Regions from separate parts of the Homo sapiens genome. Here regions 1 and 3 are each reported to be linked to region 2. Evidence: microRNA targets listed by miRTarBase, many of them from high-throughput screens and not tested one by one. Region 2 holds a microRNA gene; each other region holds the end of a gene's coding sequence.
What was found. Region 2 holds the annotated microRNA hsa-let-7e-5p (UGAGGUAGGAGGUUGUAUAGUU, at 2,229-2,250, opposite strand). A microRNA usually pairs through its seed, bases 2 to 8, with sites in the 3' UTR of a target mRNA and lowers its output. Matches are read on the target gene's strand: a 7mer-m8 pairs with bases 2 to 8, a 7mer-A1 pairs with bases 2 to 7 and ends in A, and an 8mer does both.

Region 1 (5,000 bases), not on the chromosome of region 2:
CACGTGCATGCTTATGCATACCCAAGACACAAACACATGTACACGCACACATGCGCACACACACGTACATCTATACACGTGCTCACGCATGTACACAACTCATGCACATGTACACCTATACACGTGTACACACACATGCATGCTCACGCGTGTACATGCTTATGCACCTACAACATGCACGTGCACAGGCTCACACATGCACACATGCTCACACTACACATATCCAAGAACCCACTTGCACACACACACACGCTCAAACACGTGCACATGCACACACACAGGTACATCCCTCCTTTAAAATGGCTAATTATTGCTGTTTTAAAAAAAATACATCCAACAATGGTATGTCCGGCTCGCCATCCTTCACCCCACCATGGCCCCGGGAGGCATCACGCCACCTCTGGAAGCACAGCAGCCGTGGCGCGGAGGAGTAAGCGGATCCCAGGGTCTGCAAGTCTGGAACTCAAACCCCAAGTGTCAGCTCTGTGGCCATCAGCCCAGGAACACAGGCCTGTGGCCAAACAGAAGCAGCTTCCAAACAGACATAAGCAAGTCAGCAGGCAACACAGGGTGCGCGACTGCAGCGCCAGCCCACGGGGGATGGCAGTGGGCTCCCTTGGCGCAGGGGCAACTGTCCCACCGTCCCTCGGGCACTGACAGGAAGGTGGCCCCACGAGGGCCCACACAGCCCCCTGCCCGGCGGGGCAACCACCTTCGGCCCCCACAAAGCCCAGGCGCCAGCAGAGCCCAGGAACCCAAGTTCCCAGCCTCAGGCCACCAGCACAGCCCTGGGTGCCCCAGGGCAGGCGGGCCTCTCAGAGGGGAGCCAGGTCCCTATGGCCCAGAGAGCTTCCCCAGCACCTGCCACACAGCCAGGAAGCTCAGGGCGTCCCCAGCCCGTCGTCCCCTCTAGGGCCTGCAGCCTTCTGCCATCTTCTCTGAGAAGGACACCCAGAGCAGGAGAGGGGTGGCCCCAGGACCTCGTGGCCTCAGGCCTGCTGTCCACAGGGCCTCCCAGGCCCAGCCTTCCCCCAGGGCCAGCCATCCACCCCTCAGGCCAGACTGACCCAGCCCTTGGCCCCTCCCTCCGGGGGCAGCTTCTCACCTGCTGCCCGGCCCCAAGGCATGCCACCAGCCGGAAGCAAGGCTGGGCATGGGGCGGAGGAAGGAGGAGGAGATGCCGCCACGGCTGCGGGGCTCAACTCCCTACGCTCAGGAGCCCTTCTGGGGGCCAGACCACATGGCAGCTTCAGCACAAGCAGGCCTCCCACCCTCAGGGACCAGGTCTGCAGCGACTCACACCTGGGCAGTGGCAGCTGCCTGGGGCCACCCCACCCCCAGCACAGCAAGACCCGTGGCTCTGGGCAGTGTGGGGCATCCCGAGGCGCTTCAGCCCTCAGCTGCCCGGAGCCTCTCGTCAGGCCTGCAGTGCTCGTCCAGTGAGGATGTCCTCCTTCGCCCAGCTCTGGCCCCAGGCACTGTCAGCCCCTCCCGCCTTCCACGCCCCCCACTCCAAAAACAGAGGCTTCCAAACACACAGAAATCCCAGGAGCCCCAGGCCCCTGAGCAGTGCTAGGGCCCGGCCTGGCTTTCCCCGGGCCTCACCACGCAGAGTTTGAGTGGTGGGTGCCCATGGGGAGCGGGCAGGGGGCCAGCACTCGGGGAAGCCGCACCAGCCACGTGACAGCAGGGCCCAGGAGGGCGCTTCAGAGGTAGAAGAAGTTACATCAGAGTTTCTACAAACGTATAAAATTCACGTCAGTGCACATGTGCAGAGCAGTGAGATCCCAGGCTGGAGGGATGAGGTGGGCCAGGTCAGGCCCACCCACCAGGCACCCGGCCTCCAGCCCCGGGGGAGGACACACCTACCCCCCAGTGGCCTTCAAGGGCGCCACCAAGCTACACATTGGCCTGGCAAGGGTTCCGGGCAGCTCCGCCCCAGCCTGGCAGGCACACCAGTGCCTCTGCTCACCTCAGGGGCGGCAGGGTTCTGCACACAACCACCCCGCACACCCTTCCTGCCATCTCTACCAAGTCCTGGCAGCAACAAAAAAGGCCAAGCGTCTCACCACCCACAGGGCAGTGCAGCCAAGGAAGAGGTCACTCACGGGCGCAGATGCCACCAGAATGAGAGAAGGCCACACTGCCCAGGACTCTCAGAACCCCCAGGAGGGGGATCTGCTAGGATCAATATCAAGGAGACACTGGCAGTCCCTGGGCCTCCAGGCCCTGCCCTGGCGTCGGTGGGCTCCAACAGCCACCCCCAAGCACCCTGCACCCCAGGAGCCCGAGGCTCCAAAGGCACAGGACCAAGGGACGCTGGCAGCACCCCGACATGACACCCCCAAGACCTGACTCCACCTGGCCCGCCCTGCCCCTCCTGCCCCCAGCATGCCCCGCACCAACTGGGACCAGCCCCAGGCCAAACCCAAACCAAACCAAAAGAGGAAAAAGGCACAACTGTTTGTTTCCATTTTGCTAAAACACTTTACGTCTGTCTGTATATTCCAGATTAACAAAATCTGAGCTGCAAGAAAATAGGGTGCCGATTTCTGTACAGTCTACAAAACTCCCATCCCCAAGCGGGGACCGGGCACCTCCAGGGAGGAATGTACAGGGGAGTGGGGTCTGTACAGTGCTCTGCACACCTCAATTGCTAACAGGACAAAAGGCCCTTGGACGCAGGGCTTCTCTGTCCCTTCGCTCGCTTCTGAAGCGCCTCGTGAGAAGCATCCCTCCATGGCCCTGCACGTGGCCTTGATGCCTGGGACCCAGTTCCGTGGCCCACCCTGCCTGCCACGACCCCTCCCCAATTCCCCCACACAAAGGGGTCTGGGCAAGTGTTTATTCTTCTCCTGCCACCAAAGCCAGGTCCACTTCTAAGCTGAATGTGCAGCCTGTGCCACCCTCCACCTCTGTCTCCCCTTCCAGGCCACCCCCCCCGCCCCCCGTCCAGGGCAGCCCCTGCCTGTGACCTCAGGAAGGAGAGACCAGGAGCATGGCCAGCGGAAGCCGAGGCGGCCACCCCTCTTCCCACCCAGCCCAAGGCAGCGCCCTGCCCCTCCTCCCGGAGGCTGCGGACTCCCTTGCCCCCCACCCTGCCCACACTGCAGGCCAGGGCTGGGAGGCGTGCTCCATGGCAGGAAATGACATCCAATCAGGGTTTCCCTCCAGGTTTCCAACAGCAAAACGCTCCACCCACCCGGCCACCCACCCCCATCACACTGGGCCAGAAACTGTGTCTTAGGGTACAAACTACCGTTTTGTCCCAAGAATTAAAGTCATGCAGAGTGCTATTCTGTCTAAATAACTTATTAGAAAATGTGTTGGTTTCAGGCTGGGAGAAGCTGTGGGCTGGGCGCTGTTGGCAGCAGCCTGGGCTGATAAGATTCACAGGGTGGACCGTCAGCCAGAGGCAGGAGGTCCCCGGGGACATCTGGGAGAGGCCAGCACGATCCAGTGGGCACTGGGGAGAGGGGTCCCATGGACCCCCACCCTGGCTGTGCCACGGACGCCATGGGAGTCACCTGGGTGATGACACCAGTCAGCACAGCCCAGGCAGGGGAGGGGCCGGAGCCAGAGAAATGGAGGGCGTCAGAGCAAAGCAGGTGTGGACAGAGCCGGGCGGCGCGGGGCAGACCAGGCCCTCCAGGAGGTGGGGGCAGGGGCAGGCCCTCCCACAGCCAGCTGGGGGCTGGGGACAGGGGCGCTCACCAGCCCGGGTCTCCGGGTCCAGTCTGGGCAGGGCGGCAGGGCGGGGCTGTGTGCATGCGGCATGCTCAGCCGGGCCACACCCTCGGCATGCGCGGAGCAAAGCAGCGCCGTGGCCAGCTGGGGCCTCCACAGGCAGTGGCGCTGGGGCCGCAGGCGGGGCCGGAGCCTGGCCCCGGGATCTGCTGCAGAGGTTCTGTGCTTGGTGAGCAAGGCTGGGCCTTCCCCAGTGGCGGCGGGCAGGGCAGCGTCATGGACAGCCGCGGTGGTCCAAGATGCCACTCTTCAGGTGGCAAGCCGCCCAGGCAGGTGGGGAAGGGCGAGGGGCTATGGCGACAAACAACCCACCCCCACCAAAGTGTCGCCGAAGAACAACAGCCCCGCACCCCCCGGAACCAGCCAGACAACCGCAGGATGTTGAAAAGGGGAAACCCAACACAAACGCCAATTGAGCGTCTGAAAGCAGGCCGCGCCGGGCGGCGGGCAGGCGGGCAAAGGCGGACAGGGCGGCCGGGGGGGCGGGCGGGCGAGCGGCGGCGGTCACTCCTCGCGCAGCTGCAGGCGGTAGCGGTGGTAGCGGACCTGGAAGAAGAGGCGCTCAGCCAGCGAGAGGGTCATGCCCGGCAGCACGTAGTGGTCACTGGCGCCCATGTGTCTGAAGCCCAGCGACTCGTAGAGCTTGTGGGCGGCCACCTTGACGGCCGTCGTGCCCAGCACCACCGCGGAGTAGTTGTGCACCACGGCGAACTCCAGCACCTTCCGGCCCAGCGCCTTGGCGATGCCCTTGCCTCGGAAACGTGAGTCCACAGACATCCGCAGCAGCTCCACCGTGTTGTCCTCCTCGTGGGCCCGTGCAGCCACAATGCCCACCACGTTGCCATCCAGCACGGCCACCCAGAAGCAGGAGCCTGCAGGGGATAGGGCGGTCAGGGACACCCGGTGAGGAAGGCTGGGGAGACCCCTCCACCTCTGGGGTGAGACAGGGCCCTTGGCACTGCCCCCTCCAGCTGGACACCAAGCCAGGGCAGTGGGACACCCAATCCCGGCAGCCCCCGGGGCCTAGCTACCAGCTCTGCTGGAGCCAAGGGAGGGGGCAGCCACTATTCAGGACAAGCAGGTAGAGCCCCCCTCCAGAGCTCCTTAAGCAGAGAAAGCCAGCCCAACACCTGTTACCCAACAGGCCAACAGCCAGGACCCACTCAAGCCTGGAGGCTGCGCTGCTCAGAGTAGTGGTCAAAGGCCCGAGTCCCTCCTCTGAGACCAAGAGCTGGGGCAGGCTTTGCCCAGTC
Region 2 (5,172 bases):
TGTGCGAGTGTGTGTGTGTTCTATCCTAGAGGAAGATGCCTTCCCTAAGATCAGGCTCATCAGGCAGCCCCAACCCCTGCACTGAGCTCCATGGCCATCCTAGGAGGCAAGAAGATTGTCCCACTTTACAGATGGGTAAGTTGAGGCCAGGAGAGGGGCAGTGACACACCCAGAACTTCATAGCCAGTAAGAGTGTGAGCCATGCAGCCATGGCAGAACCTATGCCTACCCGACCCCATCTGGACTTCCAGCTCTAGGCAATTTCTGCAGCGTCCCTTCCCCCTCACCACCTTCAGCCCCTGGCTCTTAGAGCTGCCTTCAGCCTTCGTTTGGACAAGTAGCTGAGCTCAATGTCTTCCCAGCTTTCCCCTCCCGGATCACTGCCCAACTCTGGGGGCCTCCTTCCTCTGCCCTGGGCCCTCCCACATACCCATTTCTTAGGGGCTCCAAGTCCACATCTCCCATCTCCCCATCCCCACACACTCACCCTGGGCAGCAGCCAGCTCCTGCAGGGCATGGGTCATCTGGGTGAAGGTGTCATGCAGGTGGCTTCTCTCATCATAGTCTGGCGGTGAGGGAGGGAGCAGGGGCTGGGGGAGGCAGCTCCCCGCAACACCATGTCCCTAATGCGAACATTCTGTTTCTGAGTCTCTGCCCTCCCAAGTCTGTATCCTCCCCTCTCTGACTCTTTGCCCCACAGTCGCTATGCTTCCTGAGTCCCTCCCAAGTCTCTATCCTCCCTGAGTCTCTGCCCCCGACCAGTCGCTATCCTGCTTCCCCTAGTCTCTGCCTCATCTCTGTCCTCCTCTCTCTGGGTTTCCATCCTCTTTGAGTCTCCATCTTCCACCCTCTGAGTCTCCATCCTCCCCTCTCTGGGTCTCTATTCCCTCTCCAGTCTCCAACCTCTCCTGACTCTCCATCCTCCCCTTTCTATGAGTCTCCATCCTCCTGACTCTCCATCCTCCCGAGTGTCCATCCTCCCCTCTCTGACTCTCCATACTCCTGAGTCTCCATCTTTCCGAGTCTCCATCTTCCTCTCTCTCTGAGTCTCCATCCTCCCCCTCTCTGAGTCTCCATCTTCCCCTCTCTGACTCTCCATCCTCCCCTCTCTGAGTCTTTGCCCTGCTGTCTTCCCCTGTCTGTGTCTCTCTGTCCCTAAGTCTCTGTTGTTCTCATGGTCTTTGAGCCTTTCTCCTCTGACTGTTTCTCTCTGTCTGTCCCTCAGCCTGACCCTCTGGGCCTCTCCTGCCCTCCCTCTGCACCTTCCCCAGGACACTGATGAAGTGTGGATGGTCTCCTCACTGATTTCGGTGTCAGAGAGGCCCTGGAAGGCGGCCGTGAAGGCCTCCTCACACTCTTCAAGCTTGGGGCTCCGCATCCCAACAAACATCTGGCAGATGCGGAGGCGCTCAGAGTAGGTTGTGAAGCAGAGGAGACAGGCCCAGGCGGGCACCCTGAAGACAGCCAGGGCCAGCAGGGCAGACGGGACGGCACTGGCCAGAGCCAGCAGGGCCATCGTGTGGGTCTCAAGGCCAGGGGAGAAGCTAGTAACCTTTATGAAGTCACCACAGGGCGGGGGAAGGGCCAGTGGTCTGGGGTCAGAGGTCAGGTTTCAGTTGGTGGTCAAATGTCATGCTCTGGAGGAAGGGTATGAGGAGTCAGGGGTCAGAAGTCAGGCCAGCAATTCCCCAGGTGTGTGGTTGGGCCAGACGCCAGGCTCCCAAGAACCTCACCTGTGACCCTGGATGTCCTCACAGGTTAAAGGGTCTCAGGGACCTAGAGACTGGCAACATGGTGTGCGGTGGCCCGGTAGACCCTGGGGTGGGGGTCAGAGATGGAGATAGGCACAGAGACATTCTGAGAGCCAGAGACAGAAAGACCAAAAACGACAGAAATAGAGACACAGAGAGATATCGGGAGGGGCAGAGACCTAGAAAGCCAGAATAAGAGGGAGTCAGAGGATCCACTGTGAAAGAGACACAGAAGCCACAGAGACACAGCAGAGATGGAGACAGACAGGGAAGGAAAACAGATTTCAGGGGAAGGAGGGGATGCAGGGACAAGGACAGAAAAGAGCCCGGCTCTTCCTCCCAGGGTCCCTGGGGCAGCCCAGTGGGGCTAAGGGTCCCTGAGTGGGGCTGGGGGTCCCCGCCGGGCCCCGTCCCGTGCAGGGCGCAGCCTGGGGAAAGCTAGGAGGCCGTATAGTGATCTCCTTGGGTGTCCTCCTCAACTATACAACCTCCTACCTCAGCCCGGGGGGCGCGGCAGGTGGACAGACCCGACAGACAGACAGACAGGGACCAGGAGGACCAGGGATGAGGGGGAGGGCCGGGGAGGCCCCAGCCGCGATGGTGAGCCCCCGACACGGACCCACAGACACGAGCTTGTGTGCGGCGAAGGCCCCGCAAGGTCGGTTCTACGGGTGGGTGCCAGGACCCAGGAGTCCGGGCCCCCGGCCCCTCCTCCCCAAGGAACCCAGGAGTCCAGGCCCTCAGCCCCTTCCTCATCAGGGACCCTGGAGTCAAGGCTCTCATCCCCCTCCTCCCTAAAGAACCCAGAAGTCTAGGCCCTTCCTCACCACAGACCCAGGAATCCAGGCCTCTGGCCCTTTTCTCCCCAAATGTTCCTGGAATCCAAGGACTCAGCCCCTTCCTCCCTCAGACTCATGAGTCCAGATCCAAAGCCTCCTTCTCCCCAGAGACCCAGGAGTCCCTGCCCCCAGCCCCTCCTCCCTCCGGCCAGGCAGGCCTCCTGGGGAAGGCATGGCCTGATAGAAAACCTGGCTTCCTGGGTGCCGGCTGGGAGGGAACCTCATTTGTCTCGTAATTTGGCCCTTTGGGCACACCTGCTTCCTACCTACCCTCCTGTCAGTCTGCAGAGACTCCAGGCCCAGGGCTAAGGAGGCCAGGGGCTAGCCAACCATCAGAGCCTCCCTAGGTGCTTTCTTTCCTCTCTCCTCCCTTCTTTGGGTCATTTACAACTATGACAGCCACAATCTCCCAGCGCTGACCCCATACCAGGCCCTGAGCACCAGTCCTCTCCCTGACACCTCCCACTCCAGAGAGCGAGGTGCCCTCAGCATCCCCATTTGGCAGGTGAGGGGGCTGAGCCTCAGAGAGGGGAAGAGGCTCCCAAAGTCTGCCCAGCCCCATCTCTGTCCTCCCTCTTGAATCCAGGAGGTGTCCCCAGCCTTCTCCAGCTTCTGGACCCCGGGACCCAGCACCCACCCTCCCCACCCCTGGGCTCTGAGCCCCTCCAGCTGGGGTCTCTCCCGTGCCCAGCCCCTCCTCCTGGACTGTCTGGTTCTCGCTGCCCCTGCTCCAGGCGCACCTTCCGGTTCCTTTCTCGCAGTCCAGGTCTCTCTGGCCCTGCCTTTTTCTCTCTCCCTCTTTCTTTCCACCTTCCCTGGTTCCCAGCCTCCTCCTGCATCAGGACATCCCTCCCTGGCTCTGCGCTGGCTTCTCTCTCTGCCCATCGCCTCTCTCCTCTCCCCGCTTCTGTTTTCTTCCTTCTCTCCCCCTCTTTCTCCTGCTTTTCCTCTACCTTCTGTCTTTCATCCTCCCCTTCTCCCCCTTCCCCCTCTTTGTCTCTCTCATTCTCTCTCTGGCCCTCTCTCAGTCTCTCTCCTCTTTCTCACCCTTCTCCACCCCCTTTTTTCGGATGTCTTTCCTCACTTCCTCTCCCTCCGCCCCTTCCCTCTCTCCATCCCTCACCTCCGTCTCCTGCTCTCTCTCAGTCTCTGTCTCTCTCCCTCTCTCTCTCCTTCCCTCCCTCTTAGGTCTCTCTCTTTCCTCCCCTCCCCCTTCTCTCTTTGGGTCTCCCTCCCTTCTCTCTCTCTCTTTTCTCCTTCCCTCTCTCCCTCCCCCTCGCAGCTCGAGCCAGGTCTGGAGCTGGGGGTGGGGTGGGGGTGGTTTGAGAAGGGGCCCAGGGCTGGGGTAGCGACCTGAGGAGGGGGAGGAGAGGCGGGAAAGGGGCGGAGGAGGAAAGGGGGAGGCGGGGGCCGGAGACGGGTCTACGGCCAGCTCTCTTCCCCCTTCCCTCCTTCCCAACCTCCCAGACCCTCAGGCGGGGGCGAGAGTCAGGCCAAGGTGGGGAGGAAGGGGAAGGGAGGAGGCTGCCCCCGCCCCCACCCCCCCACACCAACCTGGCCCGGAGCCCAGGCCTGGGTTCCCAGCATGCCCCGGGGCTGCCTGGGGCCTGAGGAGGAGGGTGAGGGGAGAGGGGAAGCCGAGAATCTCAGAGATTCCCCGGACCTAAGCATCTCCCCCACCCGCCAACCAGTGTCTCCTTGGGGAAACTGAGGCGGAGAGAGAAGGGTCAGGACTTGTTCAAGGTCACTGGACAAGGCGTTGGTGGAAACGCGAACTCCCTGGGCCCATAGCCCCGCTTTGGGGAAGGGGTAGGCTCTGGACTTCCCCCAGGCCTAGGTCCCCCTCCCCCTCTCTGCGGACCCTGGGGAGCCCCCAAGGGTCAGAGAGCAGACCCAAACAGTCTGGCACCATGGCAACTAGCTGGTCCCGCCCCCTTAACCCCTGGAGGGCTGGACTCCAGCTGGGGCTAAAGAGGAGGTGGGGACTCCTGGGTTCCGGAGGAGGAGGGGCCTGGGGATCCCCAGAACTGCAGGCTTCAAAGGGAGAAAGATGCCGGAGCCTGAACGCTTGGGTTCTAGAGGAACAGAGGGTTGGGGGCCGCGCTCCTTGGGAAGAGGGGCTGAGGTTCTGAACTCTGGGGTTTTGAAGGAGTTAGGGGCTGGAGTGTGGATTCCCTGGTCTGAGAGAACAGACTGGGGGCTCAGACTCCTGGATCCTGGAAAAAAGGGGGCTGGGGGCTCGGATTCTGGAATGGGTGGGGGACTGGGTGGTGTACTCCCAGATCTGAGGGAGGAGGGGTCTGGGACCTGGAATCCCGGGTCCCCGAGGGAGCATGGATGCTGGGCCTCTCCTCCTCCAGACATCTCCTGCCCCCGCCGCTGACCCTGGCCTGTCTGGCAGCCCAGACAACCTCCCCCTCCTCCTCGGCCCCCTCCCACTGGCACGGCTCACCCTTGACCCCTCAAAGCCCCGCAGCCCCATCCCTGCGCCTCCCCCTCCCCTCCAGCCAGACGTTAACCCTTCCGCTGCCGCAGGCACTCCAAAGCCAGTCTTCCTCCACCTCCCCCGAGGGCTCGGGCAG
Region 3 (5,000 bases), not on the chromosome of region 2:
AAGGTGAATTAGAGGCAAGATTAAGCCACACATGCCGGTATCAATTTTTTTTTTTTTTTGCAAAGCCAGCTGACTGTTCCAGCAGGGGCTTCCTTGTGTAATTATTTTCTTAACTGATGTCAACAACATCTTGCGGTTATTAATTGTTGAGACGTGAAACCTGATTGCCACTAGGTAAAACACAAGGGTTGGCCAAAATGAAATAATCCCTGACATTAGAAACACATGTTCTTAATGAGGTCAGCTCCAGGATCATATGGGGGATAATCCCAGGGACACAAAGTTGTGTCAAACTTGTCTCAGGAATAAAAATATTAGTCTCAAGCCTTTGATAGCACGGTATTAAATATGACATTGTCAGCCTGTAGCTGATCTTGCCCCTGACTGTGAATTGTCCCAGCATGACCTAAAAAGCTGCGTGTGTTTCCTTACAGGTGCCTTTCATTATCTCAAGCCAGATATCGCGTAAGTGAACTGTCCACTTGGAGCTAAAACTGGCCCTGTTTCTGGTCTTCGCAGCCTAGATATGAAGAATCTGCTCTGAAAACAAAAAAAAATTACCCTTTTGTTGGGGGGGGTGGGGCAGTGGTCCCAATAGGAGACAAAGGAGAGTGATTGATTTTCTTCCTCCAATAGTTGGTTTCAAATCCTTTTGAACACGTTCGACAAAAGCAGTGGAGAAGAGGAAGACCTGGAGCAATAAAAGACAAATGCAACATTTTAAGGCAATGGTTTCACATGGTTACATATCAAAACATCCCAATTCTTTAGTGCTGATCATCGAGGAGCTAGAACATTCCATTTGCTTGTGTGCGTGCGTGCGTGTGTGTGTGTGTGTGTGTATTGAGATTTACCCAGACTGGTTTGGGCAAGCAGACTGTTCTAAAATATAATAGAATACCCTAAAGTATAACATGTCGATGTTCGATGCTGATACTTCTACAACTTTAAAACTGCTCATTTCATGAAGCAAGAATGGAGGAATCCTTGACTCTTACACACTGGAAATTGAAATAAAGATAAATGCAACCATTTTTAGGAAGCTAGACTAGCTGTAAAGGACCTCCTAAATAAATTATTTGTTACTGTATCCTCATTTGTAATCTAGTTGTCAATAAATGGCCCGGACATGTCTTGCTAACAGGATATGGGCTACCAGGAAGAAGGACTTGTTTCCCTTTCCTGTGTGGGGAGAGGTGTGTGACGTTTTTCCAGTTCACATTTATTTGGTAGCCCACCTGGGTTGGAGGAAGGGCACGGTGGAGAGAAAGTGACATGCATTCACATATCTGCTTATCAGTGTGCAATACTGTGTACCTCATGGATGCTTTGGCAATGCCCAAGGCGATATAAGCAAAATCAGAAGTATATTTTTGCAGGTGCTTTTATTTTCACAGCCCATAATTCATAGTGATAGAGTGCAGTGATGTTTGCCATTTGCTGGACAACCAACACCCGGGTTGCTCCTTTGATTAGAGACCAGATCAGATAATTATGCTTTTAAACTGATTACGTTTACATTCTTCTCTTTTCTATGAAAGGCAGGGCAAGAACAGAAGTGTTCACATGGCTCTCATGTACTTTTAAATTATACAATGATATCCAATATTAAAAGATTATAGGAACTGAGGTTTACATACGTTTGTGTGGTGACATTTTAGAATGTCAATAAATTTGCTTTTTGAGATGTTGAGAGGAACAAGAAGGTGGAAGGCAGTGTTATTTATTTCTTTCTATTCTTGGAACCACGAATGAGGTAGGCACAAATACATTCCTTTTAGAGTTAAGAACTATGACGTAGCGAGTTAGTGAGACTAGACATAGTACCGAATTTAGTTCATGCATTGGTCTTAGAGGGTGATGGAACAAGAGAAGTACTATCTTTGTGTTGCAGCCTCAACCAACAACAATGTGTTGTAAAAATGTCTTTCATGTAAAAAGTGCAGTAAATATTTACTATTTATAATGAATAAACAGTTATGAAAACTTGCCCACTACTGCTTTTTTGGGGGAACTGGTGAATGTAGTATAAATGAAAACTTGGCAATGGGGAGCCCAATGTACATGAACTTCACTTCTGGTGGACCCTTTCTATGAGAGTATTCTGTCGACAAATAAGGTTACACAACCCACAGTTGTATTCTCTTGAAGAAGCTTGGTTGAACACACTTTTAAGGATTGAAGTTTATGTTTTTATCAGTGTAGCATCTAGAAAAACCCTTCAGTTTAGCTTCCTTCATCTTTCTTTGGTTCTCTCAGAGTTATCCAGTCCCTTTACTGTCACTTAGAGATATGTTTTCCCTGGAGTACCCGGTTCCATCTTCATCTCTAAGTCATCTCCACGGAAATTTTTATTTAAAACTCTCATATTTTATTTATTTTATTTTAGCAGCCTACTTTATTCTTCATGAAAGGTATTACTGCGTACTTCATTCATTCTTCCTTTCTTCCTTCTCCTTCCCTCCCTCTCCTGATCCTTTCTCCTCTCCCTCCCTCCTTCCCTTCTTCCTGAATGTATTTAATGAGAGTCCAAATGTGCCAGGCATGGTGATTGGCACTTGTGTTATAGCGGTGCTTGTAGCCTAGTAGAGAAGGCAGAGAAGTAAATGCATAGTTTCAATAAAGTGTGAGGACTGTTATTTTAGAAGGAATAATCATAATACCTTTTGAAGCTCTTACTTGTATTAACTTATTTATTACTCTCCACATGTCACATGCAGCAAGTGATGTCACTACCATTCCTTTTGTACAGATGAGAAAACTGAGGCTCAAGGAACTTACATGAATCACTCAGTGGCAGAGCTAGGATTTGAACCTAGTACAATCTCAGTGCCCAAGGTGTTTAAACTCATGCTCTTCTGCTTCCTCAAGACTGGTGTGAGAGAACCTTACAGTCAGGAAGATCTAAAAGGGTGCTGTCCAATTCAGAAGCTACTAGCCATGTATCCCTATTTAAATTTAAAGAAACAAAAGTACATAAAATGACAAAATTAGTTCCTAAGTTGCACTAGCCACATTTCAAGTGTGCGATAGTCACACGAGGCCAGAAGCTGCCATACTGGGGATTGTTGCTGTGGGACATTCCACATCACAGGAAAGTTGACTGGTCAGCTGATTGAATGCACGTGAGTTCATAGTTTAACAATATCAAAAACTTGAAATGCAGTGGGTAACATTTTCCAAAGTTGTAAAATGCTTTATTTTTTTTTTTTTAGCTCACACACTTATCTTTCTGATCAAATGTGTTGCTCTTCTTCTGACAATTTTTCCAAAAATAATTTAAGAGGAAAGGAAGTTAATCTTTACAGCACATTTACTTTTATTGTCTTGTTTAATCCTCACAATGTCCCGTAAGGTGGGTGTTATTCACCCAAACTTATAGATGAATGGACTGAGGCCAAAGCTGTTAAGCAGTTGGGCCAACATTACATATAGCCAGAAATGGCAAAAGAAGGCTTTGACTTCTATGCAACCATGTGGCAGAACCTGTTTGTTTTACCCACTTAATTATATCAGTCTATCCTCATGCCAAACTCAAGTTGCAAACAGGCATTTAAAAAAATCATTCACTCCCAATACATGAGAGGAATGCTGCCAGGATTCAGATTACACAAGAGAAACTCATTTTACATGATCAGTTTTCCTTTCTGTCTCCTGATATCAGAACTTGTCATGAATGGCTTATATCTTATTTTGATATACTTCTTTGTGTCCTTTTCTTATTTCTGCATGTCTTTGAAATCTACTTCTCTGCTGTTACTTCTCATGTTGAAAGTCCCTGTAGATCTTTTTTCTCCAGACTCTTAAAATATCTAATCAATTTCTGGGGAAATGTGACCTGATTTCTTTCAGTCAGAGTTCCTACCCTCATTTGCTGGGACAAGCAGCCCTAAGAACTTTGACCCTTTGACATTCAACAGAACTTGAACCTGATTGTATGTGGGGGGTTCCCCCTTGCCCATGTAGTTATTTGATTTCATTTGAAAAATTAAAAGTAAGAGCTGAAAATTAAAACTCAAATTATTAAATTGTGGATGTACCATTGTCAGCTGCTGAGCCATTCCTTGGCAGCAATTTTTCTAGGAATAGATATCATACATTTCACATCTGTGACAGAAACAAGCATATTGTTTTATGCTTTTGATTTAGCCCAGTCTGGAAATGTGTTTTCATACACACTTGGATGCTTGGGAAACATCCTAGGTTAGAAGGGATCTTCATTAGTGCTGGCATATAGAACCAGAGTAAGAGACAAGATCACTGGCTCATGGCTATAAGTTTAGGAAGTCTTAAATGGAGAAGGAGATGGATTCATTAATGCCTTTTATCTGAATATGGCATGGAAGAATCTATCTGAAAACTACATAATTAAGAGTTAAAATTAATACACAGGACCAGAACCAAAGTATCTATAAAAAGGAAATCTATTTACCTGAGCCTCAACCATTCTGAGTGAATGAGTCTTGGTGTTAAGTCATTCATGGATAAGGAAAGCCGGTGTCAAACATGGTGGGCACAGTAAGTGACGAGTGGCAGTATTTGTGCAAAAAGTTCCACATGGCAAGCCTCAGCCTCAGAAAAGTGCTCATGGAGCTGGAAGTCAGTGGTAGATGACGTATGAGAGAAAAGGAAGAAAACAGAGCTGTGTATAGGACTTCTCACCAGATGGCTGTGATATGAGTTAGTTCTCTTTATTCCATAGATCCCCCTTTGGAATTGCTGACCATGGTGTCCCAAGTGCCTAGCACCATGTCTGATCCATTACAGGTACTCAATACATGCCTGTTGAATAAATGAATAAATAAATAGATGAAAAGTGATTTTCTTATACTGTCCCTACATGATCTTCTGAGCAGGGAGACATTTGCATGACCAAAGGTGCACAGATTGCCACCAGGTTAGATTGGTATGAAGTCTTAGGGAAGGAGTGAGAGGCAGCTGGCCTAACAAGTCACTCAAAAGCCATATTTCTGATGATTTTGACTGTAGCAGAGGATACA

Region 1: the mRNA of NAT8L is a reported target of hsa-let-7e-5p. Seed matches in the 3' UTR shown: 7mer-m8 at 1,710-1,716.
Region 3: miRTarBase lists PAX3 as a target of hsa-let-7e-5p. Seed matches in the 3' UTR shown: 7mer-A1 at 1,315-1,321.

The regions. Positions count from the first base shown.
Region 1 is chr4:2,063,379-2,068,378 of GRCh38, reverse strand. NAT8L (N-acetyltransferase 8 like) reads right to left here. Exons shown (of 3, transcript NM_178557.4): 3 at 1-4,619. The coding sequence ends at 4,252. Among named protein-coding and RNA genes, the nearest start is that of NAT8L, 6.6 kb to the right of the region's middle. RefSeq lists an enhancer at 1,234-1,847.
Region 2 is chr19:51,689,871-51,695,042 of GRCh38, reverse strand. It overlaps MIRLET7E (microRNA let-7e), which reads right to left and starts at 2,257; the gene lies at 2,179-2,257. SPACA6 (sperm acrosome associated 6) reads right to left here and starts at 1,713. Exons shown (of 9, transcript NM_001316972.2): 1 at 1,303-1,713; 2 at 488-565. The coding sequence starts at 1,516. It overlaps SPACA6-AS1 (SPACA6 antisense RNA 1), which reads left to right and starts at 1,587. Exons shown (of 2, transcript NR_108100.1): 1 at 1,587-2,409. It overlaps MIR99B (microRNA 99b), which reads right to left and starts at 2,431; the gene lies at 2,362-2,431. It also overlaps MIR125A. RefSeq lists enhancers at 3,438-4,247, 4,612-4,711, 4,248-5,055.
Region 3 is chr2:222,196,877-222,201,876 of GRCh38, reverse strand. It overlaps PAX3 (paired box 3), which reads left to right. Exons shown (of 9, transcript NM_181458.4): 9 at 435-1,990. The coding sequence ends at 469. Among named protein-coding and RNA genes, the nearest start is that of CCDC140, 99 kb to the left of the region's middle.